Regions from separate parts of the Homo sapiens genome. Here all the other regions are linked to region 3. The links come from fine-mapping of genetic effects on gene expression. A gene starts in region 3. Each other region holds a variant in brackets. All regions are shown on one strand. Distances are between the middles of the regions. Region 1 overlaps CACNA1C (calcium voltage-gated channel subunit alpha1 C). Region 2 overlaps CACNA1C (calcium voltage-gated channel subunit alpha1 C). Region 3 holds the start of CACNA1C (calcium voltage-gated channel subunit alpha1 C).

What was found. PIP is the estimated chance that this variant, and not a neighbour inherited with it, causes the effect.
Region 1: its variant is fine-mapped to the expression of CACNA1C in cerebellum (GTEx, PIP above 0.99).
Region 2: its variant is fine-mapped to the expression of CACNA1C in cerebellum (GTEx, PIP above 0.99). The same link has a PIP of 0.9 or more in cerebellar hemisphere.

What each region holds. Positions count from the first base shown.
Region 1 is chr12:2,240,788-2,251,197 of GRCh38, forward strand. The region is part of intron 3 of CACNA1C (calcium voltage-gated channel subunit alpha1 C); the gene reads left to right. Among named protein-coding and RNA genes, the nearest start is that of CACNA1C-AS4, 23 kb to the left of the region's middle. The variant C/T (reference allele first, on the strand shown) is at 5,853.
Region 2 is chr12:2,367,302-2,377,711 of GRCh38, forward strand. The region is part of intron 3 of CACNA1C (calcium voltage-gated channel subunit alpha1 C); the gene reads left to right. Among named protein-coding and RNA genes, the nearest start is that of CACNA1C-IT3, 100 kb to the left of the region's middle. RefSeq lists enhancers at 9,418-10,021, 10,022-10,410. The variant T/C (reference allele first, on the strand shown) is at 5,469.
Region 3 is chr12:2,047,992-2,058,401 of GRCh38, forward strand. CACNA1C (calcium voltage-gated channel subunit alpha1 C) reads left to right here and starts at 4,996. Exons shown (of 47, transcript NM_000719.7): 1 at 4,996-5,620. The coding sequence starts at 5,572. It overlaps CACNA1C-IT2 (CACNA1C intronic transcript 2), which reads left to right and starts at 361. Exons shown (of 2, transcript NR_046768.1): 1 at 361-619; 2 at 1,143-1,472. RefSeq lists an enhancer at 1,593-2,094.

The DNA of each region.
Region 1 (10,410 bases), 190 kb after region 3:
TCCTTGCCCTCTCCCCCACCCCCTGACCTCTGGCAGCCCAGAGCTCCCCTCAGCAGTGCTCACCCAACTCCCTCAGGGCCTGAATTTCCAGGGTGAGAGTCCCCTCTCTACACCGTCTCAGTGGGTGCTTCTGCCAGGGTGGGATCTCGCCAGGGATTATGCTTGCATCTTAACAGGAATTTACTGGGGATGGAAGTATTAACCCAAATGGAGTTACCACAGAGGGGATTTCACATGTTTCTCAAATAATGCCAGAGTGAGCCAAGGTTTACATAACCAGTACGAGGTGAGGGGGGTGGGAAGAGGGCAAGCATTTCCTTGCGAGGCTCCTGGCAGCTTTATTTCTGACTTGCGAGTGGTTCAAGAAGCCTCCATCCTCCCACGCATGGAGAAGACCAGCATTGACTGCAGCCCCGCTATGTCCCCGCGCTGGCCTGGCTGTGTATTGTCACATAGATGATGTCATGGCAGCCTTAGAGAAATTCTCTGAGGCAAATCATATTGTCCCCATTTTTAAAGATGAGAAACCAGAAGCCAAGGATCCTGTAATTTGCCCAAGGTCACGTGAAAGAGCTGGAGTTCAAGTCATCCCAATTCCAGATCTTTTTATCATGCCATGTTTTTTATGCCTCCCCCCTTGTCCCAGAGTGTGGCAAGCAGAGGAGAGCACGCGTGTGGGATGGGATCAATTGCAAAACGTGTGCAGCCTGGCCAAGCAGGTGGGGGAGTGGCAGGACCAGCTATGTGTATTCTCATGCTCAAGTTCCTCTGGGTCTTCCGAAGACAGATGGGGCAGGTAGTTCCAGCTGCTTTGTGCCTTCACCAGCTGAGCACTGGCAGGTGGGGCATTTTTAACCTCACGCCTTGACTATCCCCTCTCCCTGTCACAGTCAGCTCTGCCTATTGTCCTCCGTGGCTCAGAAGCAGCTATCCTTAATCATTCATGGGGGAATTTTGTGGAAAGATCCCTCCCAATGTGGCTGCATCTGCCATAAAGTGGAGATTTTTTGTTATGTTTGATCCCCTGCTGTATTCCCAGAGAACTCAGTGTGCCTGGCACGCAGTGGGTCCGCAGTAAATTTTTGAATGAATGAGTTCGCAAGGCGTTTCTCCTGGTTCTTGCCCATCAGAATTTCCATTTCTCCTGCTCCCTGGGCTGGCACTACCATGCATGGTGCCCTTGTCCCTGCCATCGCCATCATCATTCAAGCTCCCTGCTCCATCTTGCAGCCTCATTTCTTAGCTGTAAAGTCTTCCCAGTCCTCCATTGTCCTTGTGCCCTCTGCATAGCCCCTCCTCCCAGTCAGGCCGCATCCTCCGACCTGGCCTCCCACCTCCACGCTCAGTTTTCCCAGCCATACTTTGCTCTTGCTACATTCCTGCCACCCTATCTCCTGGGAGTCTCTTTGTCCTTCAGGTCAGACAATGCAAACTTAAATCTTGCTGAAATAAGCAAGAAAGGTACACAGGTGCAGGAGGAGTCTTCACTTTCCCGCAGAAACATACTCACTTCCATTGCTACACAGAGACAGCAATGCAAGGATAATGAAAACTAGCTACTGACACTTGGCCTCCGTGCTGGAGGAACAATGGGGGACCAGGGTAACTGTGATGAACTGAAATGACAGGTGTTTCCTAAAGGTGGCGGCCACAGCAGACGGTCATCACTGAGGAAGTCTGTGCCCGCTGTTATGAGCTCTTCTGACTTTTCAAGGCAAAAATTTGGATTTTGTATGAAACCTACTGTTTCTTAAATGATGACTCAAAAAAATTTATTCTTAATCAACTATGTCAGTGGCCTGTTGGCCTCTACTTCAGGGAGTCTTCCTAGATTATTGAGGCCCAACCGGATTCTTTACTTCCTACCTGCTCCTAGTTAGTGAAGCATCGTCATGGAGAGGACAGACCTCTGGCCAAAGAACCTAAAGACTTGGGCCCTGGTCCCGGGTCTGCTTCCAGCCTCAGTTTCCTTGTTTGTAAATGAGAGCAATAATATTTGGCTTGTCCAATAATCTACCATGGTACAGCTGTGTGGCTTGTAGTTTCAAAGTGCTTTCATATGCGTGATTTCATTTGATCCTCAAAAGAACCCTGTGTGGTTAGCAGGGGCAAGTGTGGTTATTCTTAATTTAAGAGGAAAGAACTGAGGGTCTGAGAGGTGAAGTGACTTACCCACGATCATAGGGTTTATAATTGGTAGAGCTGGCTGTGTCATTTGGGTCTTTTATCTGCTGTGTGGTTTGGTGTTTTGTTTGAACTTTTGGATAGAATGAGATCTGTCTTTGTAAGCTGTTAAGTGCTATGTGGGTGCATAAGAAGGAGTAAGGAGCTTACTTATATGGGTTATTACTAATAAGTGTATGCCCTCCATTTCCTCATAGTGTGGCACTCATCCATACACCATGGTAATTGAGCTCTGACGATTTGATATGTCATGATCTTACCTCTCTAACCAGGTTGTGTGTGAGTACCTGGAAGCAGGGATGAAGTCTAGTGCAGAGAGGCCCATAGAATCATTTGGTAAGTAATTGCTGATGAATTGAATCATAGGAAAGTGGAGATGCCACCTGAGAGAGAACCATAACTTGAAACCAAAGCTGGGCTGTGCCTGAGGTTAGTCAGGGGCCTGGTGGCTCATAGTCCTAAACCCTCAGCTCATGGTCTGCTGGTAGCCACTGATCAAACATGCATGATAGCACGTGTGACTGCTGCCATCAGTGCGATCACCATCCAAGAAGACCACATGGGGGGATGATGAGAAGGTATGAAATGACATAGTGGAAATGGCATTTTGGAGTCAGATCTGGGTTTGACTAATCCCTGGCTGTGGGGCAACTTAACTCTGTTGAGCCTTAGTTTCTTTACCTATATAATGGGATAATAGTAGCTACCTCATGAGTCTGTCCCTGGAACAGGCCAGGTGCTCAAGTGCAATGTGTAGTCCAGTTATAAATTGCTTTGTTAGAGCAGTACTCACAAGGGCACTGTTTATCTGGTTTTGCCAATGCTGGGCACTGAATTCCTCGCTGCAATTGTCAGATGAGGTTCAGTCAATACAAATATTCCTTTATAACAGTACTGGTAGGAGCCTTTTAACTTGAGGTTTTATTAAGATAATAAAGACAACTGGAGAATGACTAGGTGCACATAAGGGAAATGGTGCTGTTTTCAATTAAACTTCAGGCCAACTATGTACAACTATGGATATAGAACTGAGTTATGATGTGGAATTCCAGTTTCTCTCCACTGAGGACCTGGGTGAACTGTTACCAGAGAGAAGCATCTCTGGAGAGCTCCCTTAAGCATCCTGCCCACTCTGTGGGGCCATCCCCTGCTGCTCTTGGCTCAGATTCATCTATCTGTTTCAGGGCCTTTGCCCTCCTGAGTCTGTAGTTAGCCACTTGCTCCAAGAGTCTTTCAGCTACAGCCTTCATTAATTTCATTGTGAAGGGGCCTTCGGCTCCCCTAGCATGCGTTGTGGGACGTCAGCTGCCTGCTGTGCTCATTACCACTAGCCCAGGAATGCGGTGTTGACTCATGGCTGCAGCTCCGCTTTTGAACAGAAGCACTCAGGGCCTGAGCCTGTATTTATCACTAGGCAGGGAAGGTCCTAAGGGAAGGTGCCAGGTGAACACAGACCTCATCCTTCCATCATTACCTATGCAAAACACTAAATACAGTCATCTCCTCCGGAAACTGCCCCCCAGGTCCCAGCAGTAGTTCAGGATTCCCCTGTTAACCATGTTGTGCCCACTACCTTTCAGGCTGCACACACTTCCCTCTGTGTTTAGAGAGAAGGGAATGCAGAAGTCTGCCGTGTAGGGCATGAGGGGTGAAGCCACAGGTCAGTCCTATAAGCACCTCCTCCTTCCTAGAGCAGAGCCATCACCTGCTTTGGGCTGTGCCAAGGCTCTTGTTGAGCAGTTCAGTGCCTCACGTGGACTCCCCCTGCAAGAATTCACTGAGGATTATTGGTTAATGCTGATAAAGCACTTGGGCTGTAAATATCAAGTTTAATGTTAATAAACAGGGGGATTAGGTTCATTTATGTAAAAGGGAATGCTTCACAATGGATACTGGGCAGGGGAAGACTTTACTTTTATCAACAAAAAACAAACAGAGTAAACTGTAAACCCAGACCCATCGAAGCCAAGGCCTTCTTGTCTGCTCACCCTGACATTCCCACAGGGTTTTTCTCTGGGGCTGTAAATGCAATTCTGCTGCTGAACTGATTGCCTGAACGTACTTGTGTGCTTGATGTCTTTCAAAAAGAAAGTGTCTAGGAAAGTGCAAAAGAGGAGCAGGCAAGACAGAAACAGCATGGCCATGTGGAGGGGCCGCGCTGATCGTGAGAGCAAAGGGAATTGTATTATTCTTTGGGATTTGCATACTTTAAGAAGGTGGTTCAATTAATGGCATTCTGTTCCTCCTAGTTGAAGACAGCAAAATGGAAGCATAAGGATTTGCTGAGTCCTCCCTCCAGGAAGCTTCTTAGCTGAGCCATTCTCAGCTCCATTCTCCATTGAGAACCCTTCAGCACATGCATGCTTGCTTAGCCACCCGGGTTTAAATTTTCATTGACTGAACAGTAAAGGGGAGAAGCAAACACACATGAGATCTCTGAGCAGTGTGTTTCAGGTGCTTTATAATAAACCTCTCCTTGCCGGGAGAGTGTCATCCCATTTCACAGACCAGGCAACTGAGGCTCAGAGCGGGTGGTCTAGAATGTGCCCATGCTTGGGCTCCTTTCCTTGTTCCTCCCAAAGGCAGCAGTTATACTATTTCCTTTGTGTAAAAATATTTATCTTTATGACCCCAGAACACCTAGTACAGATCCATAGCCATTTCTCTGTAATTCTGAAATCCCCAAGTCTCTGAAAAGTGAAAGTTCATTTATTATCCCTTTGACAGCAAAATCTGGCCTTTCCTGAATTCATCTGGGGCAGAGTTGTCCTAAACTGACACAAGGGTAGTTGCAGTCTTATTTAACCTGCTTAGAGTGAATATTCATATGATTTACTGCAGAAATACGTTGGCTTCTGGGGCCCTTCACCCTGCTGTGCTATTACATACAGTAGATATGCAAATGACTTTACCTGACACATTCTGAATTCTGAAATGCATTTGGCCCCAAGGGTTTCCAATAAGGGACCGTGGAGCTCTAGAAGGCCCTGCACACAGTGAGCACTACCTGCATGTTGTTGCTTAGTTGGAGTGAAACCTCAGTACCCTAACTTTGTGCGTGGTACACCCATGGTGGGATGGACATAGAACCAGGCCCCCTGTTCAGAGTCACCACAAAGCACCTGCCGTTAGGGTGGCAGGAGGAAGGGCAAGCAAACAGAGCAAGAGAAGATGGTGCCGGCAGCAAACAGCACAGGGCATGGCGTGGGGACAGTTAAGGTGAACAGTGCCCACAGTCAGTGCTGTGGCAGGACAACTGCAGTGGGGCAGGCTCGGCAGAGCTGGGCAGGGGATGCAGATGCTGGAGACCTTGCTGCCCAGCAGATGAGAGTGGACCCAATTCTGTAGATCGGGGGCCGAGGCTGAATTCTGAGCAGGAAAGTAATCTGCTGAATAGGAGGCTGTAGTAAGGCCTTTTAGATGGTGGCTCCCGGAGTGAACAGGATCCTGAATCTCAGGCTTTCCTTATCCCACTGAGCCATGCCTCCCTGCCTGAAACGTGTTTCTGAGTAATAGCAGCTAACACTTACACAGTGCTTCCTGTGTAATAGGCACTCCTGTAACTGCTGGACCCATGACGACTCTGTGCAATTCATACCGTTGTTGTCCCCTTTGTATAGATGAGAAAACTGAGGCACACCGAGGGTAGGTCGTCAGGTCCCGTGAGT[C/T]GCGAGTGTGGGGGCTGTGGTGAGAACCCAGCCAGCATGGTGTGTGTGTGCTCTTAACTGCTACGCTCTGTCCTAACCTGTTCTTTTATAGGTCCCAGCAAGGAAGCTTTTCTCCTGGTCCACACCGCTGCCTGGGCATGGAGAAACCTGCTGGCACATTGGCCAAGGTTGGGGGTGAGGGGTGATGTCATGACCCATCCAAGAACTGTAATCTCCTGTCTTCAAGGAGGCCAGTTCCCTGGGCTGACGCTTCATGCATAGCGGCTGCATCCCTGTCTCCCCACTTCTCCATCCCCTTCCAGGCCGTTCTTCCCCCATGCACACACATGCCTACACATGCCTGCAATAACTCCCCGATAGGTAGAATTAAAATTTTGAAAAACTTAAGCTAAGACTATAAAGTAAGAAAGGCTAAATCAGCTTCCTTCCTTCTTCCCTTTGACTCCTGCAAATCTGTAGCTTCCTTCAATTCATTCTGGAATTTTTTTCCAGTTTTCACCCTGATTATCCTTTATTCTTGTCTTAAAAATAGGCAGGACATTTTCTTTGGGCAGCGGGGATGGCCTGTTATAACCTTGCTCTCTCTATATGGTCACAGTGCATTGCATGGAAGTTGGGAGCACCCTCGCCTTTTCCTGTGAGGTCACTCTTTGATTTCCTGCACCCTCTCTGCCCTGTCAATGCCGCAGGGTCTGTTTTTCCTATAAGTCTGATGCTCTCTTGTCCTTGAACTCCTTTTCCGGGTGGGTTTTAATTAGCTAAATTTGCATGTGACAAAATGAGATATAACCTTCGTGGGGAAATTCCTCACAGCTTTCTAGGCTGGGAGAAATCGACCATGCCATTTTGTGATGGAGTGTCCCAGTTTAACACGGCAATGTGACTGCAGACTTCATCCGCCTGGTGGGCACTTTGTCCCCATGGCTGAGTTTCAGGCTTCCTGACCTTCCTGGTGGGCAGCCACGGCGAAATCTAGACTTCCTGGTCCCTCCTCAGTTCCCTATGGACGATGGCAAGATTTTGCAAAGGGACAAAAGGAAACTTTTGCTGAAACCTTCTAGGTCTTTAATCACTTGTTCTTTTTCCTTCTAAAATTCTGGATTCTTGCCGAGCCTCTTTGTGCTTCCTCTTTTCATTCTCTGTCACCTCCACTTAGTCTCGTTCTCACCTGCTCCTTTCTCTTTATTCTCCAAGGGAGGGGAAGACAACTTGAATTTTAGGAACAAAGCAAGAAACAGTACATGGAAAGGAGAAAAGGTGCTGTGGCCACTGCAGAGGGGGGACAGGTGGCTGAGAACCTTTGTAAGCCAGAAAGAACTCTTCTCTCCCATTCTCAAATATAATTAGTTATTTCTAAAATTGAGCTGAATCGTGGGCATCTTTTTCCACTCAAACTTTTTTTAACTTAAAATTAAGTTCTATGTATATATGTGTGTGTGTGTTCATTGGAGAAACAGTAACACCACACACAACTTAGCTAACCTAGGAAGGTTTGGCTCAAATGTCCATTGCAAAGTAATTAAGAATCTCCTCTCCTATGCTGTGTTTACACTGTACATTCCCATAATGTCCACTTCCTGGCTGCTGGACTCTGCTCTATAAATATAACCAGTGAGCAGTGTCTCTTTCATGCTCAGCTCCTGACCAGTTAAGGGGAGGAGGAGATGAGTCCAGGAACCAGAGTTGGATGCTGGGAATCTCCGTGCTGTCCTTCCAGGGAACATTTCTCTGCACCGGGCCAAGGACCCACGGGATCATCCCTTTCCATTGTGAAGGAACCGAGGCCGCCTCACTGGGCTCCATTTTCCAGTATTTTTAGTTAGCAGCCTGCAAGTGAGTGTTCTGCCTGCAGTGCTGTAGAAACTGGCAGATGCTCTGTGTTGAGTGGTGTGCAGGACAGACAGGAGTCGGTGCTGGAGAGGCGATGGCTGCAACTGGGGCAGAGAAGTGAGCCTTCCTGTCTTCCTGGGGGTGATCATCCCCAAGGCAGTGCATCACGCTCCCGTGTTCAAAGCCGCAGTGGTATAAACTCTCGAAGAGAACAGTGTCTACCTTTACTCTGGAAAGAAGTAACCGAAAGACAGGAGCGGATGTTGCCTCCTGGCAAGAGGGCCTCACGGTGTGGAGGGGCAATGCCAACCTTGGCGGTGACGGACTTAGGTTCTATTATGGCTCTAATACTTGCTGACTCTGGGACCTTGAGCAAGTTATGGTAACCCTCAGCCTCTGTTTCTCCCTCTGTACAATGAGCATCACGATAGTCCTGTTCTCACAGAGCTGCTATGAAGGTTGCATCTGGGAAGCACCTGGCACCGTGCCTGGCGTAAAATAGGCCCTCAGGAAATGTTGGCTATTATTATGGCCATGCTTGACTGGCACCTCAGTTTGATGTAGTGGTTGTCACGTTTCATTTCTAGCGTTCTGAATAGGCTGTCAGTAGAGAGGTAAGGAGGTAAGGACTCTGGGGCCAGACTGCCTTTCTTCAAATCCCAAGCCTGCCACTTAACAGCTCTCTGACATTGAGCAAGTTAATTCATGTGACTGGGCCTCACTTTTCTCATCTGTAAAGTGAGTATGAAGTGACGTATACTTCACTGGGTCATGGTGAGGGGAAGTATGCAAAGCAGGAGTTGGTGAACTGGCGAACAGGCCACATCCGGCCTGCCATCTGCTTTTGTAAATAAAATGGTATCAGAACATAGCCACACGTATCCATTTATGTCTTGTCTGTGACTGTTTCTCTGCAGCAGCAGCAGAGATGAGTAATTGTGACAGAGACTGTCTGTCCTACAAATCCTAAAATAAAATCCTAAAATATTTACTACCTGACCCTTTACAGAAAAAGTTTGTTGCCCTCTGATTGTAAAAGGTTTAAACAGTGTGTGGCACAGAGCAGATGCCAGGTAAATGTTTGCTGTTATTCCTGCTGGTACTCCTCTGCAGTTCGTCACCCCCAACCCTCACATTAGCTCTGTGAAGTGGGCACACAGAGGTGATGATTGTTCCCTGTTTATTGCACCTGGGATTCAGGGGACTCACGTGACCTGTCCAAGGTGAGGCCAGGCCTAAAATCTAGTCTAGGGCTCACTCGGCCGGTGGCTCCGAATCAGTGACATCTGCCTTGCCTTCTCTCTTTTTTTTTTTTTTTTGAGATGGAGTCTCACTCTGTTGCCCAGGCTGGAGTGCAGTGGCGCGATCCTGGCTCATTGCAAGCGCCGCCTCCCAGGTTCACGCGATTCTCCTGCCTCAAGCTCCGCCTCCCGGGTTCACACCATTCTCCTGCCTCAGTCTCTCGAGTAGCTGAGACTACAGGCGCCCGCCACCACGCCTGGCTAATTTTTTGTATTTTCAGTGGAGACGGGGTTTCACCGTGTTAGCCAGGATGGTCTCGATCTCCTGACCTCGTGATCCACCTGCCTCGGCCTCCCAGAGTGCTGGGATTACAGGCGTGAGCCACTGCACCCGGCCTGCCTTGCCTTCTCTTTAGATTCCTCAAGGACAAGGATGCATCAGTCCATCTCCCTGAGGCATGGACAGTGCCTCACAGAGCCCACCCAGTCAGTATCTGCGGAGTTCATTTGTCTTCTGTGCTCCACCTGGCCAGCATCAGCACTGAGCACTCCAGGAAGAGACATTTCCAACCCTGGGCCGTTCACCTCCCAGCACCTGGAGTTGGGAGCACTCAGCTTATTAACAGGGCAGAAACTCCCAGGTTGCACGCACAGCACCGAATCCTGAAGGGCACAGGCCAAGACCCTCTCTCCATCCCGAGACCTTTAGTCAGGATTGTGGGTGTGGTTGATGACAGCTGATATCTGGGTAGCAATTTATGGTTCACTGAACACTTTTACATCCATGATCTCATTTGATCTTCATAGCAACTACTCAGGGGGACAAACTGGGTGATGGCCTACGCTGTAGCTGAAGTGGAGAGAGACTGGCACCTCCTCCAAGGCCATGCGTTAAATACCCACTGAGCCAATGGAGCCCTGGTCATCCATCTCTAATCCAGTGACCTCCCAACCCCAGCCGGCCCTCCTGACTTGATCATTGTGGTGATGCCAGTGCTGTAGCCTTGGGCACTCATTCCATTGTCTAATGACCCTCACTGTCCAATAATTCTTTTTTGTCTGTAATGGAAATTCCACATGCTTTAGGGGTTTGTTCTGCTCTCAGTGGAGATGACGACAAGCCACCCAGAATAATAGCTCTACTTTTTAGTCTTCAGCCTTGAAGCTGTCCTCTCCCTAACCAGCCCAGGCTGGCTCTTCTGTCCTTGTGGGTTTGCTGGAACACAGACCATCCCATCCACCCTGGTGACTTCTACCACATCCTGCACTTAGAGCAACTTCCAGCATGACGCAGAAGGAGGGACAGTGTGTTCTGCGTTGGCTCAGCCCGTCTGCAGAACAGTCATGTCACTTTGGAAGAGCCTGAGTTTGAGAGGGATGTGTGTCTGCTCATATGAATACTTCTTGATCATTTAGTTTCTGTCATCAGTATCTGGGGAGTGGAGAATCGTTGCTGAGGGCTTCTGAAGAGCAGGGGAGAAAATAGA
Region 2 (10,410 bases), 320 kb after region 3:
ACCTGTAGCTCACCTGCTGCACAGCCGGTTCCTAACAGGTCATGGACCGGTACCGGTCCGCCATTGTGGGGACTGGGGACTCCTGCTCTATGAAACAAAAAATGAGAAAGTAAACACACAGATATCCAGAAGCATAAAACAAAATGACAGAAGTAGGGTTGAACGTTTAACTATGCTAAAATATGTAAGTGGGTTAAACACTCTTATTATTAAAAGTATAAGACTTACAGATGTTGGTTAAAACAGAAAATGTATCCATATTCTGTACAGGAGACACTAAAACAAAGTGTTGCAAAAAGGCTAAAAGTTTAATTAATTAATTAGGAAACAGTATCAGAATAGATTTACAATATAAAGCAGCTGGTGCTATAAAATACAAAATTTAATTAATTTACCTCTGGAAATTTAGAAATAAAAAAGAGCAAAAATTAATAAGGAAACATAATAGCATAAGAGAATGAATGCTATTCATAGTGGTATGCTAAGAAATTTGAAAATCTTAATTGTAACTTTCTAGAAAAATATAAATTTCAACTTTAGATAATTTTTTTCAAAATACAGAAGAACATTAAAGTTAAAAATTTATTTAATAAAATTAGCATTATCTTGACAAAGATGTCACCAAAAAAGTCTTAGAATAATCTTATATATGTACACAGATGAAAAAAGAAAAATGAAATAAAATTGAATCCATTGGATTCACAGTTAGGTAAGACACAGCCAATGAATTCAAGGACTATTCAATGCTGGGAAATTTAATACTATAATATATCACATTGGTAAGTCAACTAAAAAATGCAGCATGCAATAAAACTCAATATCCATTTTAAATACAACTCTTAAAATACTAGGAATAGAATGACAGCTAATATGATAAAGAATGTATCTCAAACTAACAGCAAACATTTAGTGATGATGTCCTGGAAGCATTTCCTTTAAAATCAAGAACAAGAAAGGAACGTGCACTAGAACCATTGCCAGTCAGCGTTGTGAAAGGTCGAGGGGCTACAACAAAGCAGGACGTGGAAAGGAAGAGAGAAAATTATCAATATTTGCAAATGGTGTGATTATAGTCCTAGAAAATCTAACTGAAAATAGTTAGCATTAATAAAAGGGCCCCAGAAACGTGACTGGATATGACATAAATAGTTTAATAATCAGTAGTTTTTATGTACCAAAAATGACCATCTGGAAAATAAAATGGAAAAGAATTCCTATTTACAACAATTACAAAACTTTTAAAATGTGCTTAGGGAAAATATTCTAAACACATGGGACTGTATGACAAAATTAAATTTAACTAAAAGATATAGAAGAACAGTTAGAATAAATGAAAGCATGTCGTATTTCTATAGGAAAGATTGAATATCTGAAGATGCCAAATCTTTCCAAATTAATTCATGAGTTTAAGAAGAACCCTAATCAACAGCCCAGGGTGTATTTTCTTTGTTTATATTTTGGTTTGGGCATTGTTTGTTGTTTTGGTGGGGAGTGGAAAGGAGAGTGCTTAGAAAAATAATTCTAGAATTTATCTGGAAAAATAACCAGACCAAATTTACCAAGAAAGATATGTCATGAGCACAGTGAGGAAAGGATAAGAGACGGCATTCCTACAGATGAACAGAATGGTGCGGGTAAAGGAATCCACGGACAGAGCTGTGTGAAACAAACAACCAGGAAACAGCCTCTAGTAATGATATTTGTTGGGGCATAAAATAAAATTTTTAAAAATAAATGTGTCCAAAATAACCTTGTATTCAACAGCACCATTTTAAAAGTAGAAGGCCAGAGCCATAAAATAATGCATCAGTCAAAGGCAGAAGAAAATTTGCATCCTCCTATGTGTCTCCAAAGTAGCATATACTGTGTACTAGAAAACAAAATCTGTTTTCCCTTACAAAACCAGTTTAAAATTCCCCTCAATTTATGTATGGTAAAAATAACTTTAAGGTGCTTCTCTAAAAAATGAAACTAATATGCAGTGCATCTGTGGCTCATGAGAACCTACTATATGGTAAAGGAAGCAAAGAAGTTTTAAGGAAGGTGGGCGAGGGCAGGGACTGGATTGGTAAGTATTTGGAAATAAAATAACTTTACATACCTTTTTTTTTTTTTGAGACAAAGTCTCGCTCTGTTGCCCAGGCTGGAGTGCAGTGGCGCAATCTTGGCTCACTGCATCCCCCACCTCCCGGGTTCAAGCGATTCTCCTACCTCAGCCTTCCGAGTTGCTGGGATTACAGGCACATGCCACTGCAACCAGCTAATTTTTTTTTTGTATTTTTAGTAGAGTCAGGGTTTCACCATGTTGGCCAGGCTGGTCTTGAACTCCTGACCTCAGGTGATCCTCCCGCCTTGGCCTCCCAAAGTGCTGGGATTACAGGTGTGAGCCACCACGCCCAGCCTACATACCTATCTTATACATTTAGACAAAGCAAATTACAGGTGGATTCAAATAGTTAAATGAAAGAAAATAAACCATAAGACTTGGGGGAAAAAGACTATTTAACTGCCTCCAGAATTATGGAAGACTTTATAAACATGAAAGTAATGGAGGAAGGCACAAAAGAAAAGACTGAGATTCAACTCATAAAAATAGAAAACTTTTACCCACAGAAAAATTACAGAAAATTTTGGAAGGCAAACACACACTGGGAAAATGTTTATTAAAGTGGTAGACACGGGGTCAATATTGCTGCTGTATAAGGAGATCTTAGAAATCAATTAAAGAAACACATCCCCATTAGAAAATTTGGCAAAGGACGTGAACAGATTTATTCACAAAATATAAACTACAAACTGGTAAATACATTTTGATTTTTAAAATCAGCCTCACTAGTAAAATAGAAACATAAATTAAAAGAAGATGCTATTTTTCACTTAATAAAGTAACACAGATTAAAAAAATACATTAGCAATAGGTGTGGTAAAATGGGCTCTCATATACTATGATAGAAATAGAAAAAAGTTATAACCTTTCTGGAAACAATTTAGCAATGCATATCAAGGTCTTTGAAATGTTCATACCCTATTACCACTAATTTTCCATCTAGGAATTTGGGCTGAAAAATAATTAGACAAAGTTTTATATTTACGTATAATGATGTTCATTTCAGCTCATGTATAACAGCAAGAAAAGAGGAGAGAACCTAACATCAAAGGGGAATGTTTAAATGTGTTATAACTCATATGATGAGCTAATAAAACTTATGTTTTTGAAGCCAACAAGTTGAAATGCTCATTTCACATTAATAGCAGGATATAAAATATATGGACAGCATATGAATTTGAATAAAGTTTAAAAGGAAAATAAATATGCATAGTATCACATTTTTGTACAGTATAAAAATAAATTCAATAGTATCTTAATAAAAATTCTGGGCCAAAACTAATGAGATAAATTTAGTATTAGAAATGCTAAGTTATGGGCTCAGCCTCAAAAAATAGGAATGAAAGAGGACTAACTTAACTATTGCATTTATGAAAAGGATCGGGGGGATTTCACTGCCCCAGGCTTGGTGTTGTGATTGTAGTCGAAGCTGACCTGGGTTGCCTTGGTGGCAGTCTGCGGTGTCCAGGTGGGGAGGGGGCAGTCCCTATGCTCTGTACAGTCAGGCTCGTCTGCTCTCCAAGTTTAAAGAGAAGCAAGGTGTGTCCTCCTCTCATGTTGGTCACATTCAGTGAGGGACCCCAGGGGAACCATCTGGAAACTGTTACATAAGGAACTGCAGAAGGATCTAGGGATGTTTTACCTGGAAACAAGGATATTTAGGGGCAATGGAATAGCTGATTTCACATACATAAAGGGCTACATGAGGCTGAAAAATCAGACTAATTCTGAGTAGCTTCAGGAAGCAGAACTAGATTTTGGGTAGGAGTGAAAGGGAGAGGCAGGTTTTAGAGCCATGTAAGGTGTAGTCAGGTGTTCATCTTGCAAAATGGTGAGCTCACCAGGACACAAAGCATCCTTGAGGAGTGAAGATGAGAGGCTTCATCGGGCAGAAGTTGGAATAGAAGGCATCAAAAGACCCAGCCGTAGGATTTCTGCAGTCCCATCATTGACTGACTGGAGGCCCAGGTGGGCAGAAAGAAGGCGTTGAAGGGGCATAGACTCCTTTGGCCATTGGTTTTCAACCTTTGCTTTACAACACAAGCACCTGAGGAGCTTGTTAAAACAGTGCTGGACCCCACCTCCATAGTTTCTGATTCCGCAGGTCTCAGGTGAGGACCTGAGAATTTGCATTTCTGACAAGCTCTCAAGTGATGTTGCTGCTGCTACCACTGGTGCTCCAGGAATCACACTTTGAGAACCATCTCCTTAGGTCAAGAGCAAGAAATAAGGAGATATTCTTAAGCCCGATGGTACAGAGACCTAGAAAAAAAATATGGCACACAGGAAGCAAGCACATACTAAATGACATATGGCTTTTTTTTTTTTTTTTTTTTTTAATCTCGGACTCTTGGACAATAGTGTTGAAACTTGTGGAATTAAATCACAGACTGGAGGCCGTTCTTTCCAGATCCACATTTCTACCTGGATGATGGGCTCTGTCACCAGGCCAAAGAAATTGATGTTGAGTATTAAAAGCCTCTAAGGGGAGCGGATGCTGCAATTTTCTTCCTTCCCCTCTTAGATGTTCCTAGATGGTGGGGAAGTTCATTGTCACTTAGAAATTCATGAAGGAAATAGAATATTGCTCATGGACTTCAGAATGGCCCATAATTAGCTCTTTTGGGTTTTGTTTTGTTGGTTGGTTGTTTATCATTTGTTGTTTTACTGGACCTTGGAAGGAGTCTTCCTCAGTGAAACCCCTCGTTATAAGAACAGATAGTATATGATGTAGACAACCACAGATGGGACCCCCAAGTTTGATGATGTCCTCAGTGTCCTGCAGTTATTCCAACAAAGATGCACAATTCCCGTCGTCATCTCCATTCAAAGTAAGGCTCATTTATTTGAGCTTTCAGCTGATTGGTTTAGGAAGAGAACTGTGTACAGCCTCCCCCACATCTCCCCACCCCTTGCTGCTCTCTTCCTGAGCTCACTATGTCAGTGTGAGCAGACTGTGCGCCTAACACACCGGAGTCTGTTGCCATGACGCTGGGGAGAAATCTGGTTCCTATAGCAACATCAGGTTGACTCGTTGCACCTTATGACACAGGCAGATCTCCAGCAGGGGCTTCTTTGATCTCCAGTTAATCCAGGAGAGATGGACACATGTAGTACTGGAAAATATTACATTTTCCCACAACCCACCTAATCCTGCCTGCCTGCCTTTCATCCTCCACATTACCAAAATAATAATAATAAATAAATCCGCATTCCCTTTTTTTTTTTGGCAACCTGAAAAAATAAAGCAATGGATCACTTTAATGTTCTCAGCAGATTAAAACATAGTTTGAGGGTCAATCCCTATCGCCTCCCTTTCCAAGGCCCATCCATCCGTTAGCCTGCCCCCTGGCATGTTCCT[T/C]GAGGCCTGTCCATCTGGCCTGGCTGGCTGGTGAGAAGTCCTGTCAGCCTCAGGGGTCCGGGGACATGCCAGTAGTGCAATGGCAGCTCCCTGGGCAGGCCTAAGAGGCCAGGGGCTCGTTAGCAATGGTAGCAGATGGATGCGGGGGCAGCCCCAGGAGAGGCCAGCAAGTCCGGTGCCGAGAAGCTCCTTGACTCACCATCCAAAGGAATGCACGGTGTTGGCTTCTGTATGTCACAAAGTGGGCAGCCAGCCTGGGGCACTCGGCACATTCCTGGTCTGGTCTGTGGCGGGAGAAGTGACAAGGAACTGGATCGTTACTGACAGGAAAGCATCTCGTTGTTCTTTAAAGAGACTTTCAGCGAAGGAGGATCCATGATTTTCCCCAACCCTTCATTTGAGTGCCTTTCAGCCTTCCTTGGGGAAAACATCCATATGTTTTCTACTTATATTACTTACTTGTCACCCCTCATTCATTCAGCAAATGCTCACTGAGCTTCTCCATGTGGCAGGCTCCGTTCTAGACCCTGAGCACTGAATAACACGAACGGGGTTTCTCCTCTCCTGGCACCTACATTCTCATGGGGGAGACAGATAATAAGTAAAGAAAATGTCAGGAACATGAATATACAATGGGGAGTTTTGGGGGAGGCTGCAAAGTGAGTGGTCGGCAGAGGTCTCCTGAGGTGACACTGAGGCCCGACTGCCCTGAGGAGCCTGCCCTGGGACAAGCTAGAGAGAGGGTGTCCCAGGCAGCATGCAGAGGCCAGCATGGAGCGCTCTGAACTGGGCAGAGCAATGGGGCAGGAGTTTGGCGTGGATTCAGGGGCCGCAGCTGTAGGGCTTGTGAGCCAGGGGAGAGATTGGATTTTAAGTGATAGATATGGGAACCATTGAAAGTATTTCAGAAGGGAAACAACAGAATTATATTCGTATTTATGAGTTTGCTCCAGCTGCCTTAACAAACCCTCTTCAAGCCCATTTTCCTTTTGCCTTTCCATTAGTGGCGATTAAAAAAAGATATTTGCCACCCTTCTTAGGCTTGAAGGTGATCTGCAAGTCAAACCTCATGCTTTTCTCCAGTATCAGTAAGCTCAGTCCCATTTTTCCTCTCTTGTGCATGACGAACTTTGTTATGCCAGCCTTCAAGGGATATTCCGAATTCCTTTTTCTTAGAATTCTAGAGCCAGCGGGGGCCTTACAGATCACTGGGTCCAGTCCTTATTTTACAGATGAGGAAACTTGGTTGCCACAGTGGTCAAGGGACCTGGCCCACATCACAACTCCGCTAGCCAGGGCTGGGCCTCTGGTGCTAGAACCCAGCACCCTCTTCCGCCCCACAACTAGTAGACAGTAGACTAGTAGTCTTCCCACGTGCACGTTTACTTACCAGTGCTCATTATTTCTTCTCTTCCTTTTCTGATTCATCTCTCTGCCTTCCTCTGGTCCTGTCATTCTTCCCTGGTATGCTGGAATTTTTTAGTAATGGACTGTTGATTGCAGTATGTGGGAAATTTGGCCATAAGTTTTGGTTCTATGTGGTTTTTTATTGTGGTGGCAATTGTTTTTGCCATTTTCTGCTTTGGTGTTATTTGTGGCTCCCATTGGGGCCTCCCTAAGCCCTGCTTATTTTCCCATGACTGGGGACTGGGTGTTATTGTTCGTAACTCAATATTCCAGCCATGGCATTCAAGGCCACCAACCCTCTGCCTGTCTCAATAGCATATCACAGCCCACGCCACATTGGCCTTCCGTGGGCCAGGCCTCAGGGTGGGAACTCAGCCAGGGTGGTTTTCCTACTCTGAGGCATTGGTAGAGCGGTCAGGGCTCCCTGCTGGCTTACACCCACATAGCAGCTCCTAACTCCACAGTTTGTCTTCCCCTCTTCTGTCCACTCCAGCTCAGGGCCCCTTAGCCATTCACTCAGCAGACAAAGAATACTAATAGTAGGTGATAACCACTGCTGCAGGGATGACACATTAGCATTAGGTGACAAATAAACCATCTCCAGTCAACATTATCCCTGCTGCATCCAACCAGCACAGCCGGGAAAGCAAACAATGAGGCAGAAGCGCGTTTCCTCACTCTGAAAGGCATGCATGCACTGGAAGTTGGGTTCATTGGAGAGCAGGGTGGCTTCACATCGGGATCTGTGGCAGGACAGCCTCAGAGCTTGGCAGTGTTGTCTGGGAACTGGGCAATATCAATAATAAGGTGCTTCCAGTGACAGTCTACGTCTTCATCTTTACAAAAGCTTTCAGAGATAAGATTATTGCTCCAGTTTTCAGATGGGGAACAAAATGAGACAGGATTAGTGATTCTTTCAAGGTCAGCAGGCTGGGGAAAGTCAGGGTTGGAACATGAACCCAGTGCAGGGCGCACTTCTCACACACTGCCCTTCTCTCTGGGCAGCAGATGTGCATGTGCTGAGCGGCTGCCAAGGAGACAGGATGGTTGAGACTCTGCAGAAGAAGGGCTGGCATCTTCCCTGTGCTGCCTCAGTGGGACAGGTTGGGCTGAGATCTGCAAGGTACAAGCAGGGCTTGCTTGGGGTTCTGATGAGAATGATGCCCAGTGAATGATGCCCGGTGTCGTGGCTCAGCAGAACAGGCCTGGCATGAGGCTCAGGAGATGCGTTTCCTGGGTCTGGCCCACCTTCGGCTCCTGTGGCACTGGGAGTACTCTTAAGTCTTAGCTCTCTGAACACCAAGTGAAGGAGTTAGCCTGGAGGTCCCCAACGTTACACTCACTGATACCATTCTATGATTTACAAAGCTCTTCCTTGATGATCAGATGTTTCTTTTCCGAGGTATTTCAACTTCCCATTTATAGTTAGTATTGAAGTGCCACCTGTGGGTTTTCCAGGCCGCTGTCTCTTTTCTTTATACATCATACCCTAAGGATGCTTATTATTGCTGCTGTTGTTAAATCAAGTCCTTGTCTTAGTATATGTATCTTAACATATTGAGTTAGAGACAGTGCCTAACTTGACAATTCTGACAGTGTTGATATAATCCATGGAGAGTCTTTAGCCCACTGGTTCTGCCCAGAGCTCACTGGTAACTCAGGCTCTCTGCATGGCAAAGTGGAAGACGTTGACCACACCACTTGATTGGGAGCTGTCTTCCTTCCCTGGGATGAAACCAGTCAGGACCTTCTCACATGGGAGGAGTATCAAAGACTAAACCAACCTAGAAACAGTCCAAGAAGAACCAAACAACGAAGCAAGCAAATCAAAACAGGGGAAGAGGACAAGCAGGGCCCCAGGCAGTTTGGCTGGTGCCCAGCACAGGGCCTGGCACTAACAAGTGTTTGAGAAACATTGAGTGAAATGACATGGTTGCTCAGTAGAAGGAGCAGCCATGCTCAAGGCCAGAGTCGCCCCTTCAGTCTCAGCCATTGCTTGGGGAAGTGGTCTGTTTTTGCCATTAGAGAACACACTGCCATGGAGGACACTCTAGATCAGAAGTCCAGGTCGGAGTCATGGCTTTGTGACCTCCTGTGTGGCTTTGGGCAAGCCACTAAACTCTGAGCCTCTGTATGTGAGGACAAGCGCCCATTCTTCTTCTTATTGCAGAGTCCTCATAAACTACAACTGGATGATGCCCCCTGAGTACCTGTGCTTGAGGAGGGGGGCAAATAGCACCGAGATGGTGTCTTACCCACCTTTGTATCCCCAGCATGTGGCACAGAGCCCTCACTCATTAGGTTCTCAGCAAAGATGAGTGGGTGTTCGGATGGATGCACAGCTTAGGCGGACAGGTGGACGAATAAATGTGCAAGGAAGGTTCTGGGAGCTGCTGGCGGCAAACTTTGCTTGCTTCCCAAGGATTGTCCTACCTTTCTGTAATAGGCTAGGGGGCTGTGAGCTGCAGTATATTTCTGCTCACAGGAGCCCTTTCCCTTGGGGAGCTATGTGGAGGGCAAGACCACCCCAAGAACCCCAACATGAAACCTTAACTGGGATTCTGCTGCTCTAGGCTAAGCAATCCTACATTCTTGACTAGAAGAGTGTGTCTTAGGCATACATTGCTGCACAGAAAACCCCCCACCTCCTCCCTGCTTCACAGAGATGGGGTGAAAGATGGTGGTGCCCTAAGAATGCAGAACCCCTGCGCCACACAAAGCATGCTCGCTACGCCCACTAGCTGGCCAGGAATGGTAGGAATCGCAGGGACCATGATCAGGCCTTTTCTGCTGGGGCCACCTGCTGCTGCTGTTGTCACGTTCTGTGCTCTGCCGCCATCCTCTGCGGGGGTGGAGCCAGCATCTTGGCAGCCCCAGGGTAATAATTAGGGGAGGGGCAGCTCCCCAGCTGGCGTGGTATTTGAGGAGGGGCCTGGAGGAGAAGGAAGGGCTGGGACACGGCCAACAAAAGGAGAAATTAAATGGGCTGTCCTGGGAGCCCATAGTTAGCATTTAAACACCAGCATGAGCTGTGGGTTTCACTGAGCAGGGCTGTGTGTGGCCTCAATGCCCTCCTCTCCCGGCCCCCGTTCTGTTTGTGAGCACAAGCTGGGAGGACTCTCAGCAGAGCCCTAAGAGGTGATGTTGTCATGCCGAAGCCCAGGATTCAGGGGCTTTCATGCAGTGCAAGGACAAACATGGCGAACACCACATGCACCCAGCTGCAACAGCGCTGCACCCCTGACCTACTCACAGCCCTCAAGGAACTCACCGACCAGCCTAGCCTTACAGCGGCTATCACAGGTGTGCTGGGCCCCTGACGTCGAGGGATTTAGGGTTTTGTTTTATTTGCTGTCAGCATGGTTCGCGTTGCAATTTCGATTGTGGGAAGACAGCCAGGAAATACTAAAGAAACACCCCATACCTCCTTCACCACAGCCACAGGTACTGAGCATTGAGCACACGTTATATGTTCTTTATCTCCTCCAGTCTGCACTGCTCACTTAAAAGGTGGGGCGTATTATCCCCGTTTCAC
Region 3 (10,410 bases):
TACAGAGCTGGACACGTACTTTGCCCAGGCCTCAGAGTAGCTGAAGGAGGAGATCTAGCAGGAGCTGGAGGAGCTGTGGGCTCCACCATCAGGGTGAGCCAGCAATTCGGTGACAATGAGCGCATGCTGCTGCTTCATGTCCACCTTCCAGAGGCTCCACAAATACCTGTTGTGGACAACCTTAACGCAGAACCACATAAGGAAGGCAATTCTGGGAAATAGGTTCCAGCTTAGTGAAGTTGACCTAATGCAAAACCACCACACTGATGTTCCCATCGCTGGCCTTTGAGAAGGAACGGTTGTGCGTGGCCCTATGTGGAGATAAAGAAGGTAAGGTGTCAGAAGGCACATTTAAGCTGGGCTTTCTGACTCCACTCTTCCTACTCTGGCTTGCTAATCAACTTTACCTGGTTTGAAATGCCCACCCTTATATACAGGCAATTATGTGGATTAGAAATTAAGGATGAAACATCTTCCCAAAAGGTCACTGTTAAGATTTACCCATCATCTTGGTGCTCCTAGCTCTCTACGACCAACACAGAGTGGCTGACACTTCAACCAGGCAGCTTGGATTGCAATGAGGACAATGCAATGCATTTGGGCTGGAAACACTGCACAGGTAATTTTTGCAGGTGGGTGGCAGCATTTAGTGCTGAGTGGCTGTTGTGGTGGGCAGAGGGAGAGAAATAGAAGGGACACCTTGCAGACTTGATGGGAGACTTATTCTGAAGAGATTGATTAGCAGTGTTGTCCCTGGCTAGGCAGTGGGGGGAGGGCTCTGTGTCAAGAGGTGTGTGTGTGCTAAGGGAAGAGGAAGAGCCTGCTTGGCAACCTGGCTTTTCAAGCCTTGGACCAGACAGGGAAGAAGAAGAAGAAGAAGAAACATTTACGTGTAATCCCACCTCCCAAAGACAGCTACTGTCAACACTTTTTTTCCCCACCTGCCCCAGATTGAGGATACTGTCAACATTTTGGTGTGAACCCTATTTAGTCTTTTCCCTAGTTCAAATATAAACCTGACTTTAAAAGGAAAATGAAATCATAGTGCCTGTAATATTTTCGTGACTTGTTTTTCTTTTAATGTAAATCATCTTTTTCCACGTTACTAATATTCTTCCTTAATATTGTTCATGTCTATGTAGAATTTAACTGTATGAATGCACTCTAGTTCATCTATGCGGTGGTTAAGAGCGTAGGCTCTGAAGACTGCTAGGGTTCAAATCCCAGGTCTTTCAACATCAACTGGCTGTGAAACATGGGCAAGTGAGTAAACGTTTCTGTGCTTTGGTTTCCTCACCGGTAAAATGTGGATAAAAGCAATTCCTTCACAGGGTTGTTTGGAGGAGCAAATGACTTTATGTATGTGAGGCACTTAGAATAATCTCTCAGTGTTATTATTTAACCAACATTTTTGTTGAATATTTAGTTCATTTCCAGGTTTTCACTCTTACAAATATACTGTAATTAACAAATTCAGTGCACTCTTAATTGCTTCCAAAGAAAATATCTGTGGTCACATTTAAAAATCTTTTCCAGAGTGAATCATGCACTCAACACAAATTGAGTGTCCATATGTACAAGGCATTATGTTATGCACAAAGAATAAACACAGTTCTCTTCTTGAAGACACCTAAAATGTAGTAAGGAAGAGGAGAGAAAAAGGCTCATGCAAATATAAGCAAAATACTATGCAGAAAGAGGGCACACATGAAGACCTATGGGAGATTCTTTAGCTGGAGAATCAAATCATTCAATGACAGAGAAATGCAGACTCCCTCCTCTGCTCCCACCACCTCCCAAATCCCCAAATCGGAATTCACAATGGTCTCCTTTTGTCATGTTGAGAATTTGTTACCTCGAAAGAGCACACCCAGGGCTGTGTTCCAAAGTTAAAAGCTGGGATATGGGCGTATACTGCAAGACCAAATATTTAGGAAATACCTTTTTCTGGAAAGGAAAGAACACATTTCACAGCTGAAAAGAGAAGTGAAAAATGAAACTAAAGAAGCGTGGAGGTAATATTTACTTGCTAGATTTATACAGTGCCTACCTTTAGAAAAGCTGGGCTATAAATCCTGCACGTGACCCCCTAACACACATACACTCTGTTCCCAGTGACTTGGCTCTTTGTGAATTATCTGCAGCATATTTTGCAATCATTTCACCCTGTTCATCTCCCTGCAGCCCTGCCCCCACCAGCTCACCCACACTTCACCCCTCAGAAGAATGAGTAAGATAATAGTAGAGACTGAGTTTGGTGTCAGATATGCCTGGGCTAAGTCCAGGCTCCACATTTACTCAGCTGGGTGACCCTGGACATTGTAATTCAAGTCTCGAAGTCTCAGTTTCCATATCTGTAAAATGGGGATAATCATGACGATAACACATAGCTTATTGGATCGCAGTGAGGATTAAATAAGATAAAGGCTGTAAAGGGCCTATCACAGTACCTGGCACAGAGCACTCAGTAGTGTTAGCTATTATTATTATTCCTGCACTTGTGTGTAAAGGGGATGCAAACCAATTTTACTATTCATTTAAACAAATTATCAGCTACAGCAGCCTCTGAAACACAGGCCTATAATGCATCCTAAAGTAAATGCGAAATATTTGAATTTGTGTCATTTCTAATTTTCTCTATTAAGTTGAAAATTGAGTATGAACACACCAGAATGGCAAAGAGGCCAGATTTCTCTTGTAACCAACAAAATTGAGATCGCTATTAACATTAGAATGAAGATGACCGAAACAGCTTAATACTTCTCCCAGGGGCACTTGCATTTTACACTGGGGCCAGAACCACTGGACAAAGGAAGGAAACAGGAGTGGTAAGGTTTCAGGTACCAAGGGACGGACAGATGCATTTTCATAGGGGGAATTGCAACACTCCTGAAAGTATCTCAGGCACTCACTCATTTATTCAATACATATTATGTACTTACTATCTGCCAGATACTGCTCTAGGCACTGGTGAACAAAATAGATGAGACACCTGCCTTCATGGGGGTTACATTTTAGTGGGGGGATACAGACAATAAGCAATAAAGTTAATGAATAAGTAAACTATATAGTATGTTAGACAGGATTTCAGTAAGAGTAAGGGGAGATAGGGAGCGCTGTGGGGGTCTGTCAGTACTGAATCAGGATGAGGTCCTGGTGAGCCTCACTGAACAGGTGAGATTTGCGGAAAGCCTTGAAGAAGCCGAGGGAGTTTGTGTTTCAGGCAGTGGGAATAGCTAGAGCAAAGGCCTTACAATGTGCGTGTGTGTTGAGGGGTCATTCCTGGAGTGTCTGGGGCCCAGCCAGGAGGCTAGTGTATCCCGAGTGAGGGGGACAGCAGTAGGAGATGATGTAAGGGGATTTGTACTCAGCCATTCCTGTAGGTCACCACAAGGACCATGGCTTTTACTAAGTGAAATGGGTAACCATGGATGGTTTTGAGCAGAGGAGTGCTGGGATGTGATGTTTTAAATGGGTTACTCCGACTGCTGTATTGAGAAAATACCAGAGGGGAGAGGGAAGGTAGACCAGGGGGATCAGCCACAGGAGAAACCTGGGTGAAGGATGCTGGTTCAGCCCCAGGTGGTGGCAGTGCAGGAAATGAGAAGTGGTCAGGTTCTGAATTCACCTGAAGGTAGGGTCAACAGGATCTCCTGATGGACTAGACGTGGAATGATGAGAGAAAGGAGTCAAGAGTGACTCCAGGATTTTGAACTGAGCAACTAGAAGTATGGGATGGTCATCGACTGCGATGGGGAAGGCTGTGTGAGGAGGAGCAGGCTTTGAAGAGATCAGGAATCCAGTGTTTGGATGTATTAGGCTTGAAATGTCTATCAGACGGAGTCAGCTGTAGTCTGGAATTCAGGAGAGAGGTCTGGGCTGGAGATAGACATTTGATATAGACAGCTGCTGAAAGCCACGGGAATGGTTAGGGTCACCCAGGGAATGAGGGTGGATGTGGAGGCGAGGAGGTCTTATGTGGAGGCAGGTAGAGGTTTTCCCCAAGAGGGAGTTGTAGGCCCCCCTGAAAGGGATCACGAAGCCCCACTGGAGGGGAGCCCGGTCCTGCAGGGGGTGCCGTGGAACTTGCTGTGGTTGCAGGGAGTGATGGAGGGAAGTGTTTGCTTCTCCGGGAAGGAGAGGTGCTGGATAGATTCCTGCCGGAGTTGCAGAAATAATTAAGAGAAGTAGGTAAGGATATCCTAGTAGAACACGTGCTCGGCTGCCTCCAAGGAATTATTAAACCTGGGTCTAGGAATCTGTTCAGACATCTGGGCACCGCTGCCTCGCCTACCAGGCTCCGCCTCGCTGCCCCTCCCGCTTCCCCTCCCCTCCTCTATCTGTCACTTCTACAACCGCTCTGATTATAATTGATCAAACAGAATCACGGAATCACGGCTCATCTTGCCGTTTTGTTCAGTGGCCCGATCCGAAACGAGACTCTGGTAGTCGGGCAAATTGTATTCCTCCTCCTTGGAATTCCGCTCACAGAGGCCTTCCCGGCGTGGCCGGCCCAGCAGGGACGCGCCGCCGCAGCGGAGGAGAGAACGCGGGCGGGGGGCTGCAGGCCGGCGCGGGGGGCGCGACGCCGCCGGCGGGGCGCGAGGGGGTGTGTCCGCGCCGCGGCCACCGCGGCCACCGCGGCTGGCGCCCGGGTGCGCCGCGCGCCCCGGCCTCCCCGGGGGCTCCTCACGCCGCCCCTCGCCCGCCGGCGGCCGGGGCCCGCTCCCTTTGACGTCATGCGGGCGGAGGGCTCGCTCGGGCGGCGCTGCCGCGGGCGCCGGGAGGGGGCCCGACTTCGGGCTCCAGTCCGCCGCCGTGCGCCCCGCGCCGTGCGCCCGGCTCCCTGCGCGCCGCCGCAGCCACATCTGGAAGCGTTCAGCGCGTCTGCCTCCGGCGCGCCGGGCGGGCGGGCGGGCGGCGCGGGCAGGGGCGGGCGCGGGCGCGGCGGGGCTGGGCCGGGGGGAGTGAGCGCGGCGCTCTCGCGCGCCCGGTGTCTCCCTCTCGCTGCCTCTGCAGAAACAGCTCCTGCCAGAGCGGCGCTCGGCGCGGCGCGGCGGGCCCGGAGCGGCGGCGGCGGCTCTTCCTGCCTCCGCGCCCAGGAGTTGCCGGCTCCCTTTGACAGCAGAGAGCCGGGCAGGGGCCTCAGGAGGACTCGCTGGGAGTGGGCAGAGGCGCCTCGGCCCCTGCCGGCCCAGGCGGGCCCCGCGCGCCCCCCGCCCCTCCTCTCCGCCTCTTCTCGCCCTGCCTCTCCCGATTTATTTTTTCAAATGGTGTAGCCGCCGGAGGTGCGGTGCTCAGTTCTTGGAAGGGGCCCGGATGTACTGAGGATGCGTTACAGTTTCACTCGAGGAGGCAGTAGTGGAAAGGAGCAGTTTTTGGGGTTTGATGCCATAATGGGAATCAGGTAATCGTCGGCGGGGAAGAAGAAACGCTGCAGACCACGGCTTCCTCGAATCTTGCGCGAAAGCCGCCGGCCTCGGAGGAGGGATTAATCCAGACCCGCCGGGGGGTGTTTTCACATTTCTTCCTCTTCGTGGCTGCTCCTCCTATTAAAACCATTTTTGGTCCATGGTCAATGAGAATACGAGGATGTACATTCCAGAGGAAAACCACCAAGGTAAGGCTGGACCCCGCCGCCTCGCCGGGGCTCCCTGCCTTTTCCACCGGGTTCCTGCCCTACCCGCGCTCCCCGCGGCCCCGGGGCCGGTCCCTGCGGAGTGGCCCGGGGCCGCGTCCGCGAGGGGCGCCTCCGCCTCGTCGGAGCGCCCGGGAGCCCGGCGGGACCGGGGCCCGAACCGCCGCGCGAGACGGAGCGGAAAATTCCCGCCCCTCCCCCTCCGGGCCCCAGCTTCTCCAGAGCATGTGTTTCCTGTGAAATTCCAGGCGAGGGGGGAAAAGTTCCCCAAGTGGCTGCCGCCGCCTCGCTTTCTCGCGTCCGCCTGGAGAGCCCGGCTGCCTGGCCAGCCGCGCGGGGGGCAGAGGGCGCCGGCGCCGCGGAGCCCAGAGGCCCGGGGTCCCTCGCCCGGCTCGGGGCGCGGCTGGGAGCGCGCGCGCGCGCACCCTGCGCCGGCAGAGCCCGGCGCCCACGGCCGCCCCTGGGGCGCCCTCGCGCTGCCCGGCGTCCACTCTCGTCCAGGCGCCCCTGCCCTGGGCGGCGCGCTCCAGGTGGCGGGTGGGGGCGGCGGTGCAGATGTGAAGCCCAGCGCGCCCCTCTGGTTCCCCCTCTGTAGGTCCCCTTCTTCCTCTCTCCCTCCCTCCTCCGCCGCTCACCTACACCCACCCACCTCTCCACTGCTGTTGACCCCGAGCGCGCCCACGCCGCGTGTGTTCTCATTCGCACCCACATGTGGGCTAGCACCTGAGGATGGAAGCGGCGAGGAGCCGGGCGGTGTGTGGGCTTTGCTGTTTCGTGTTTGAAGGAGATCATGAAAGGGTGTGCCTGGCTCACGCGGCTCCATACTATTGCCCAGTGTTTTCCGAGCATCTCCATCCTTGGCCGCGAGTGTCACCAGCTCCCCCTGTGATGGTGAAAGGCAGTCAGGTAACTCCCTACTTCCTGGAAACTTTCTCCCTCACCGCTCTCCCCCCATATTAACAAGTTGTTTTCTTGGACGTTGCTTAGCATTTAAGGTTTTGGGGACGGGGGGTGCAGACAGGGTGGTCCAGCGGGGCTTTCTGGCAACCTCCAGGCATGACATCTCTTTCTTCTCGCCACTGCTCTGTCTCTTTGGGTGTAGTCTCTCCCTTTTCTCTCCCAGTTCCCAGAGCCTCCCTGTTTGCACTCTTCCTCTTCTCTTCCCCTGAAAGCCTATCTGTCACTGCTGGTCTCTGTTCCTTCCCTGGGTTCTTCCCAGTGATCCTCTGAAGACCAGCCTGGTGGAAGGAGTTGTCTCCAGGTCTTTTTGTCCAGCTTTTTCCCTCTGTTTGCTCCCAGCTCCACCTTTTGGGGACAGGGCCTTCACTCTTTAGAGCCAGAAGCTGCCATCCAGCCTGCCTGGTCTCCATCTATCCTGAAACCGATTTTGGGGCCAGTCTTCTCTGCTTTCCAGCATGGGTGGCAGCTTGGGGATTGTGGCCTCCTTTGGAAGAAAGAATCTTGTCAAGGGTCATGGGTTCTAGGGTGAGCCAGAGCTTTGGGGTCACAAGGGCAGTATCCATGTTTGGATTTCTCTACTGTTGACCCCATCCCTCACCTGATCCCCTCTCCCTTCTGTAGCTGATGGGCTAGTGAATGGTTTAGGAGGGAAGGAGTGAGACACAAAAGAGGGTGGTATTTGTGAAGAGTGGGGATGCAAGATGACTCCCCTCCAGGTTCTGAGACTGCGTGCTTTACCCACCTCCTCAGTCTAAGCAGCATTGAAGAGGAGAGCTCTGTAGTATTGCCCTAAGTATCACTGTCAATGGCAATGTACTGTGGTAATAATAGTGATTATTCACCTTATTCACAGGATGATAATCTTAACTAGTTTACAAGGTCTCCTCTTAGTGCAGGATAAACCCCTTCTGAACCCATTTCCTTACTCTGGTTGTTTTCTTTGGCCCCTTTGCCTCTCAGCATCTCCCTGCTGTATGCTGGGAGCAGACATTAAAAGTAGGAGTGCCAACCCCAGAGAGGTTCCTGAGAAAGGTAGAGGGGAAGGGAGCAAGGGAGCCAGCGGCTGAGAGCTCTACCTTTCCAGCAACATGCCAGCAAACGCTATGGCAACCTGAATTCCAGTTCTCTCCCTTGAAGCTGCAGTGATTATATAATTCATGGGAGCAGTTTTGCCTCCATTTCTAGATGCGGTTCCCAGGTGGAAGAGCACCAAGATCCCTGTCTCCCCTCTACTCTCCATCTTCTCTTCTTTAGTTGGTTGGCATTGCCGAGGTTGTTGGGGTAGGAGAGGGGAGGAGGGTGGTGGAGGTGGGAAGGGCAGACCTAGAACAGAATGAATATTGACAAGGAAGAGGTTGCTGTGGCTAATCACTAAAGGGGGCGGGTGAGCCATCATAGGGGTTAGAGTTTCAGGAGACAGAAGAGGAGTCTAGGACTGCCTCAGAAGATCAGTAATGGTGACGAAACAAAGAGTCGAGAACCAAAAAAGTTGTCAGTGGCGGGGGCTGTGCATTCCTCTCTTCCCGACATGCTCTGAGATGTGGAATGCACCAGTCCTTGCTCCCTCACCTTTTCCGTGGAGTGTGTGCATGTGTGAGTGTGTGTGAGTGTGTGTGTGTGTGTGTGTGTGTGTGTGTGTGTGTGTGTGTTGAGGGTCGAACTGGAGACTGGAGGTCAGTGCCTGGGAACAGCCTGGAAGTTCATTGAAGGACCAGCTTCTGACCCTGGGTTTCAGGCTGGGGTGGCACACTCAAGCCTTGCCTCGCCTCTGGTGCCCTGTCTGCTCTGGGCCTGTGCCAGCCTCCCACTTTTCTGGGCCGATTTTCTATTGCAGGCTCCAGCTAGCAAATGAGTGTCTTAATAGTCAACCATTGAACAAATAAAACACCAGAATGTCCCTTATCTGCTAGAGACAAGGCAGAGGGGAGAAACATGTGTTTGGGGAGTGCAAGACACACTGTGCTTTTCTTTTAACTACTTAGCGATTCAGCAGAATAAGAATCACTGTAATAAGGTAATAATAATAATGATCACAGTTAACTTTCTTTACAAATGGTCAGAGAACAACATTGCTCGCACATCAGCTTGAGCAGGTTAAAGAAAGCTGTGGCAATAGCTTTGCTTTTTCTTGATCCTGCATGGAGAAAACTGGAGGAAAGGGGCTATTGGAGTTCATCATATTATTCCTACTATTGGTCAGGCACTTTTTAGTGTTTTAGAATATGACAATATATTAAAAAGAGTCAATTTTTCATTATTTCCATAGAATACACACTAACAGTATTTAAGTGTGTGTGTGTATACATACACACATGGAATAAGGAAAAGCTATTTTAAATAGATCACACGAGAGGCTAATGCCCTTCAGGGACCTGGGGTGTTGAGAGAGAAGTATTGATAATGCAGTCTCCTAAGACTGTTTAAAGATTTCTTCTTCATAGTAAAGGGAGACTTGTTCTTACAGGTAGATGCTGCAGGCACAGTGCTTTGTAAATGAAATGATGAGCCGTTAGCCCCGTGGGACCATCTCTCAGTCTTGGCAATGACCTAGGTCTCTTCAATTTGTTCTTCAAATAAAACTGCTTGAGTTGGGTTCTTCTGTAAGACCTATCAAAGGGATCCAAGGAGCATACTGACTGGAGATTTCGAGGCCCTGCTCATCTTGGGATCCCTGCTTCCTAGTACAGGCCGCTGCTCAGTCCAGGGCCTCGATGCAAGGCTGAACAAATAAATGTCTGCGTGAATGAATGAATGCGACCTGGCCAGACCTGCAGTAGATGTGGCTTCTGCCTCTTCCAGTAGGTGGCGCCACAGGGCTTAGGAGTCAGGAAAGGGGCTTCAGGGTCCGCCTGGTGATGAAAGGTGTAGGGGGAGTTTAGAGCTTGTGACCTGTTGGGGCTGTGCTGCTTCCATCAGGCCCACACCTGCCCCGGCACAGGTAACCCAAAAGACCAGTGTGTCTCCGTGCCGCCGCACACACTGGAGGCCCTCGCGGCATCACTGAGGGACCCAGGTCCCACAGTGACCTCTCCACCCTGTTGTAATGAGAACTCCTTTGGAGCCCACCCAGTCCGTCGCAGGCTCTTCCCACAGACGTCTGTTCCCTTCCAGCACAGACAGCATCCCGCCGAGCCTGGAGGAAGCCTTTTGGGTGAATCGCTGAACTTGGTATGGCCAGATGTTAATTTTCTCCCTGATTTTTCACTGATGGTTTAGTAACCAGAGGGCCCGGTGGTGCCCAAGCCCAGTGGAGCATGGGGTGACCTGAAGCATGGGATCTGGGAACCCAGACCTGTGCAGTCACAGAGCTTGCCAGCCAAAGGCAGGAGGACATTTTCCTAACTTTAATAGGGAAAAGAACACAAAAACAACTGGGTGCACTTCACAGTTGATTTCCGTTTATGAGTCTGCCTGGATCTCCTGCTGGGTAATGGCAGAAAAGCTCAGGAGACCCAGGTTAGGAAGTAACTGAGATTTGTTCTAATTTCCAGTGATGTTTTCCAGCGCCTGGCATTTTCTTTTCTATTCCTTTCTTCACTCGGTTTTCTTAGTTGTGTGGCAAGTTCCATGAGGTCTGAGAAGCCCTTGGCACTGTGCTAAGAAGGGGTGAGTGGCTGGCAGCACTTTCTTCCTTTTACAGTAATTCCTCCCGCCTGATACAGCAGCTGTTTGTTCTGTAGGAGGTACAGGTCAGCCGGCGTCATCTCACCTCTTCCTTGCTGGGACCCTGAAATCAGTGCTGAGCATTCAGATTTAGCAGACAATTTTATTTTCCAATATGGACTACAGAAAGCTGATAGACTGTTTGCGAA